2 linked regions of the Homo sapiens genome follow. The protein of the gene in region 1 interacts with the protein of each later gene in a pairwise test. Each region holds a gene or a part of one and is shown in the gene's direction. Other genes may lie near its edges.

Evidence for each region.
Region 2: the proteins of SSC5D (region 1) and NUP62 interact in binary tests that used the Homo sapiens proteins (3 or more experiments, as listed by UniProt).

What each region holds. Positions count from the first base shown.
Region 1 is NC_000019.10:55,494,676-55,498,492, forward strand, and holds part of SSC5D (soluble scavenger receptor cysteine-rich domain-containing protein SSC5D isoform 1 precursor), read left to right. Parts: coding exon 1-108; intron 109-3,204; coding exon 3,205-3,522; intron 3,523-3,817.
Region 2 is NC_000019.10:49,906,163-49,909,569, reverse strand, and holds the end of NUP62 (nuclear pore glycoprotein p62), read left to right. Parts: coding exon 1-1,331; 3' UTR 1,332-2,745; downstream 2,746-3,407. UniProt on the Homo sapiens protein: Essential component of the nuclear pore complex. The N-terminal is probably involved in nucleocytoplasmic transport.

The sequences.
Region 1 (3,817 bases):
CTGCCTCCAGGCCCCCGTCCACCATGACGAGCCAGGCTCCAGGGACGGCAGGCGTTTCACCTCCTCCAGCCTCCCCTACTGTCCTTTGGGAGCCTGGACCGGAAGCCGGTGAGTCCCTCCATGCTCCCCAAGAAAACAGGGTCCTTCCTTCTGTTTCCTTCCCTCAGCTCTGAGACTGTCTCATGGGGGGCCTCTTGCAAAGAGAAAGGTGGAGAAGAGGAGCACAGGGGCCTCGCCCAGGACACTGAGCTGGGTTCAATGCTCTGCTGTTGCGTCTGGGAGCGTGTGATAATTCTTGAACAAGGGGTCCTAACTTTCGTCATTTACCAAGCCCCCAAAATTCTGTAGCCAGTCCTGGATAAGAGAAAGGATGCTGGGCTGAGAGTCTGCTCTATTCCCAAGCTGCACGGTGTGGCTGTAGGATCCATCATGGGGTACTCAGGCCAGCTTCAAGGAACAGCCCTGCTCAAACATTACCTTTACTTTCCAGAGTCTCTGGTTCTTTAGCAAATGTGATCAATGGTTCTGCCTGCCTCCTTTCATATATATATATATATATTTTTTTTTTTTTTTTTTTTTTTTTTTGAGAGTGGATTTAATTCTGTCACTCAGGCTGGAATGCAGTGGTGTGATCATGGCTCACTGAAGCCTCAACCTCTCAACCTGCAGGCTCAAGTGATCCTCCCACCTCAGCTTCCCAAGTAGCTGGGACTACTAATTTTTTGTATTTTTTTTTTTTGCAGAGATGGGGTTTGCCATGTTGCCTAGGCTGGTCTTGAACTCCTGATCCCAAACCATCTGCCTGCCTCGGCCTCCCAAAGTGCTGGGATTAGAGGCGTGAGCCACCGTGCCTGGTCTCTTTCATGAGTATTGAAAGGACTGTTGTTTTAAAATATAGGTGTTATTATTACTGAGGTATGGTGAGGCCAGGATCTCAGGAGATGACAGCCACTAAAAAGATTGTGACTGACGGTTCTCAAGAGGATGGCGTGCCACACGGGGCCACACAGGGAAGCACCAGGGCCAGGCAGGAGGTAGACGGAGTGAGGGGGAAGCATGGCAGGAATCTTTTATACATTTATTTAGAGACAGGGTCTCACTTGGTTGCCCAGGCTGGAGTGCAGTGGTGTAATCACAGCTCCCTGCAGTCTCAAACTGCTGGGCTCAAGTGATCCTCCCACCTCCGCCTCCTGGGTAACACAGCTGCATGCCACCGAGCCTGGCTATTTTTTTTTTTTTTTTTTTTTTGTAGAGACAGGGCCTCACTATTGTCCAGGTTGGTCTCAAACTCCTGGCCTTAGGTGATCCTCCTGTCTTGGCCTCCCTAAGTGCTGGGATTATAGGCGTGAGCCACCCGGCCAGGTGCAGGGGTCTTTCTTGTGTTTTTTGCAGGAAGGAATAGGTGAGACAGGTTGAGCAGGCTTAGAACTGGCTGGTTTGAAGAATTTCAGTGGGGCCGGTGGGGAGGGTGGCGACTCAGAGGGTTGTCCTTAGTCATCTGGTACTTGGCCCTGGGGCAATGAGGACAGGTGCAGAATGGCCCAGGGTGTGAGAGCCCAGTGGAGAGGGTGGTTTGCACACGAAAGGCATGCTCAAGCCATTTACCATCTCTAGGAATTAGCTAACCCTGGGAGGGGCAGTCCCTCAGGATCAGGAATGCTCCAAGATGTCAAAGCATCAGAAATACAGAAAATAAAAAGGCGTGGTTAACACAGCTGTCTCCTCAAGATGGGAAAAGGCCGAACAAAAGCAGCAACTTATTTTCACCATGATCACCATTCCCAGAGGTCTCGTTCCCCTTTTCCTGAATAATAATATCAGCTAACACTGAACGAGCATGCACTGGCTCCTGGTGACTGATGCTGTTCCCAGTTCTCTCCGTGTCTCAGTCCAGGTGATGCTTACAGCCACTGTGGTGTGGATACTGATAGGTCTCCATGTTACAGATGAGGCAGCACCGCTGAGAAATGGGAGAGCCAGGATTCAAGCAAAAACACTTGTTCCAGGGCGCACGTTCTTTAAAAAACAATTGTGATAAAACATACATGACATAAAGTTTACCATTTTTACCAGTCTTTTTTTTTTTTTTTTTTTAAACAGGGTCTCGCTCTGTCACCCAGGCTGGAGTGCAGTGGCACGATCTTGGCTCACTGCAACCTCCGCCTCCCGGTTCAAGCGATTCTCCTGCCTCAGCCTCCGGAGTAGCTGGGATTACAGGCTGAGCCACTGCACCTGGCCCATGCCTGGCTAATTTTTGTATTTTTAGTAGAGACAGAGTTTCTCCACGTTGGCCAGGCTGGTCTCAAACTCCTGACCTCAGGTGATCTGCCCGCCTGGGCCTCCCACAGTGCTGGAATTAACAGGTGGGAGCCACCGTGCCGGGCCTGCTGCTCCCTGTCTTTTAAAGGACTTCCTCTGAGAAGCCTTCTCCAGCTTCCTCAGGCAGAATTTTTCTCACCTTCTCCTCGTTGTGTGTCTGCCTTGCCCTTTGGGTACTTCCACTACTCCCTTTAGCTCGCTGAGCTGTAATGAAGTGTGTGCATGCTACTTTCCCTGAAGACCGAGAGCTTTTCAAAGCAGAGGCTGTGCCTGACTCATAAACAACAACAAAACACCTTATTATCCCTGGTGGTCTAGTGGTTAGGAAAATAAAATCTAAGAAAGAAGAAAAAAACCCTTATTAAACCAATAATAATGAGAGAAAATTAAGGGTGGTGAACAACTGCATGGAAAAAGACTTATTTTAATTGAGGTGACATTCATGTAACATAAAGTTAACCAGTTTAAGTATACAACTTAAGTGGTATTTATACATTCAAAATGCTGTACAACCACTACTATTTGGCTACTGTGAATGGTGCTGCTATGAACATTCACATACTGGTATCTGTGTGAATACCTGTTTTCAGTTTATTCTGGGTATATCCCTAGTAGCAGACTTTCTAGATTATATGGTAATTTGATGTGTAGCTTTTTGAGGATCCTCCAAACTCTGCCTGACTCATTATCCCTCATGCCTAATGCAGAAAATGGCACAAAAAAGGCCTCATGAAATACTTGCTGCCTGGAGGAAAGGATGGATGAATGGAGGGAAGGCCTAGATGGATGAGTGGAAAGGAAGATGGGGGGAGGGAAAGGTGGATGAAGAGTCAGGAGGCTGGGCGGCTTCCCCGACTCTAATTCTTTGGGTCTCTTCTACCCCAGGGTCCCCCCAGCTGCGCCTGGTGGCTGGGCCCAGCAAGTGCTCAGGTCGACTGGAGGTGTGGCATGACCAGCGCTGGGGGACCGTGTGTGACGATAGCTGGGACATGCGGGATTCAGCTGTGGTCTGCCGGGAGCTGGGCTGTGGTGGACCTCAGCAGCCAGACCCTGCTGCTGGCCGCTTTGGCTGGGGTGCGGGCCCCATCTGGCTAGATGATGTGGGCTGTGTGGGGACCGAGGCTTCACTGTCCGACTGCCCTGCTGCTCCCTGGGGAAAGCACAACTGCGCTCACAATGAGGATGTTGGGGTCACCTGCACTGGTAAGGAGGCCCTAGCTATCTGTTGACTCCAGGAGGGCTTCCTGGAGGGGAACAGTAACTAACATGGGCACTAACATTGATTGAGTGCTTCCTAAGCCCCAGCCCTGTGCTGGGTGTTTTTGCACATATAACCACATTGAAATCACATAATAAGTCTAGGGTGGTGTGTGTTATGCCCATTTTACTGATAAAGAAGCTGAGGCACAGAGAGGTTGGGTAACTTGCTCAAGATCACACAGCAACAACTAACTGGCAGATCTGGGATTCCCACTCAGAGAAGCTTCTGCTTCCTCTT
Region 2 (3,407 bases), 5.6 Mb from region 1:
CTCTTGCTTCGGGGGGAACTGGATTTTCTTTGGGGATCGGTGCTTCAAAGCTCAACTTGAGCAACACAGCTGCCACCCCAGCCATGGCAAACCCCAGCGGCTTTGGGCTGGGCAGCAGCAACCTCACTAATGCCATATCGAGCACCGTCACCTCCAGCCAGGGCACAGCACCCACCGGCTTTGTGTTTGGCCCCTCCACCACCTCTGTGGCTCCAGCTACCACATCTGGAGGCTTCTCATTCACTGGTGGAAGCACGGCCCAACCCTCCGGTTTCAACATTGGCTCAGCAGGGAATTCAGCCCAGCCCACGGCACCTGCCACGTTGCCCTTCACTCCGGCCACGCCAGCAGCCACCACAGCAGGTGCCACACAGCCAGCTGCTCCCACACCCACAGCCACCATCACCAGCACTGGGCCCAGCCTCTTTGCGTCAATAGCAACTGCTCCAACCTCATCTGCCACCACTGGACTCTCCCTCTGTACCCCTGTGACCACAGCGGGCGCCCCCACTGCTGGGACACAGGGCTTCAGCTTAAAGGCACCTGGAGCAGCTTCCGGCACCTCCACAACAACATCCACCGCTGCCACCGCCACCGCCACCACCACCAGCAGCAGCAGCACCACCGGCTTTGCCTTGAATTTAAAACCACTGGCGCCAGCCGGGATCCCCAGCAATACAGCAGCTGCCGTGACCGCTCCACCTGGCCCTGGCGCAGCTGCAGGGGCGGCTGCCAGCTCCGCCATGACCTACGCGCAGCTGGAGAGCCTGATCAACAAATGGAGCCTGGAGCTAGAGGACCAGGAGCGGCACTTCCTCCAGCAGGCCACCCAGGTCAACGCCTGGGACCGCACGCTGATCGAGAATGGAGAAAAGATCACCAGCCTGCACCGCGAGGTGGAGAAGGTGAAGCTGGACCAGAAGAGGCTGGACCAGGAGCTCGACTTCATCCTGTCCCAGCAGAAGGAGCTGGAAGACCTGCTGAGCCCACTGGAGGAGTTGGTCAAGGAGCAGAGCGGGACCATCTACCTGCAGCACGCGGATGAGGAGCGTGAGAAAACCTACAAGCTGGCTGAGAACATCGATGCACAGCTCAAGCGCATGGCCCAGGATCTCAAGGACATCATCGAGCACCTGAACACGTCCGGGGCCCCCGCCGACACCAGTGACCCACTGCAGCAGATCTGCAAGATCCTCAATGCGCACATGGACTCACTGCAGTGGATCGACCAGAACTCGGCCCTGCTGCAGAGGAAGGTGGAGGAGGTGACCAAGGTGTGCGAGGGCCGGCGCAAGGAGCAGGAGCGCAGCTTCCGGATCACCTTTGACTGAGCGACAGCAGCCCTGGGGCCCGCAGGTCCCTAGGGAGTTCATGAGGGGAATGCGCCCTGTTGTCTGTAGTTTGGGGTTGTGGCAAGATACTTGTTTGTTTGTTTCTTTCTTTCACATGACTGCCCTTGACATGATCGCTGTGTGCTTTGCGTTTTTCCATTTAGGAGGGTATTCTGGGCCTTCTGCCCAGGCAGCAGCCTCATGGGTGTGGCTTCTGTGGCTTTCATTTGAGTATCTTTGGCCCCTTTTCACCTACTGCGACCACCCACCTCATCCTGGCTCAGCCTGGTGATGGAGAAGTGCTGATGGTCTTGGTCCCAGCCAGGGTCGTGGGGGCAGCCACTCTCTCCAAAGCATAGTCATAGGTGTCATGAAAAAATACCAAATGTAAGAGAACCTCCAAGTCAGGGCGCAGTGGCTCACCCCTGTAATCTCAGCACTTTGGGTGGCCAAGGCGGGCAGATGACTTGAGGTCAGGAGTTCGAGACCAGCCTGGCCAACATGGTGAAACCCCGTCTCTACTAAAAATACAAAAATTAGTCAGGTGTGGTGGACGCCTGTGATCTCAATCTCAGCTACTCGGGAGGCTGAGGCAGGAGAATCACTTGAACCCAGGAGGTGTTGCAGTGAACCAAGATCACACCACTGCACTCCAGCCTAGGCAACAGAGACTCTGTCTCAAAAAAAAAAAAAAAAAAAAAGAAACTCCCAGGAGACAGCAGCCTAGTTTTCGAGTGTGAGCTTGTGCTTGTGAAAGCTAACCATGCTAACCACCAAGGCAAAGCAGCACAGTGTGAATAGAACAGAGCGGGATCAAGAATTTCACAGAAGACAGGTCAGCTGAGGGGCCTGCACACACAGGGTGTTGAGGAACCACAGATGGGCGCCGAGAGGCCTGCCTTTTGCCTGGCCCAGGCTCACCCCCACCTTGGGCCTCACCTCCTCCAGGAAGCCTTCCCAGCTACCCGAAGCTCAGGTGGCCTTCTTGCAGGTCCCCGTAGCACCCTGAGCCTGTACCTTGGGTGGCACTTGTTATGCTATCCTGTGCTAGCCGTTTGTGCCTCGTCTCGCTGTTAGATTGTGAGTTCCCATGGGCAGAGACCCACTGTCGTTCCCCGTGTGTCCCCAGCCCGGTCCCTGTCACATTTGTTAAATGAAAGAACAATGAAGCCCAGTGTAACGTCAGTCCACAGAAATAGCCACAGCTTCCAGTGGTGGCCGTAGACTTGGCTCGGAACTTAGTGGCACCAGAGTAACTCTAGTCAGTTACAGTAAAATCCACTGTGTGTGGAAGGCAGAAGCTAGCGGTTGTATCCCAAGCATCTTTTGTATTTGTCTTTATACTTTGCTGAATTCTCTGAAATACCTATTACTGTATGTTGCTTTTCTAAATAAATGTATTGTGAAACCAAAACAGCTGCTGTTAATATGGATAAATGTTAGGAGGAGAAAGCTGAGTAAAAAGAGCAGGTTCCAGGAGACTCTGCAGGGGTGCCATTCACATGAAACGCACAGGCAAGCAAATGAAGTAGTGCTTGCATAGACATAGGGGTATGCGATGAAGCAGCTTTTGTTTGATGAGACAGAGTAATAGACAAATGCAAATCGTGGTTTGCTCCAGGAAGGGGTGGTGCTAGTGGTAGAAGAGGAACACACGAGTGAAGCCGCCACGGGGAGTGGGCTCCAGGTGTTTTGTGACAGTTATGTCGTAGAATATACACAAATATGGCTGGGCGAGGTGGCTCACACCTGTAATCCCAGCACTTTGGGAGGCCAAGATGGGCAGATCACTTGAGGTCAGGGATTCAAGACCAGCCTGGGCAACATGGTGAAACCCCGTCTCTATAAAAACTACAAAAAAGTTTGGTTGTGCGTGGTGGCACGCAACTGTGGTCCCAGCTACCTGGGAGGCTGAGATGGAAGGATCATTTAAGCCCAGGCCTTTGAGGCTGCAGTGAGCCATGATCACACCACTGCACTCCAGCCTGGGCGACAGAGCAAGACTCTGTCTCAAAAAATATACACACATGTTAAGTCATCTAGTACCATCCCTAAGGCGCTATTCCAGTGGTTACA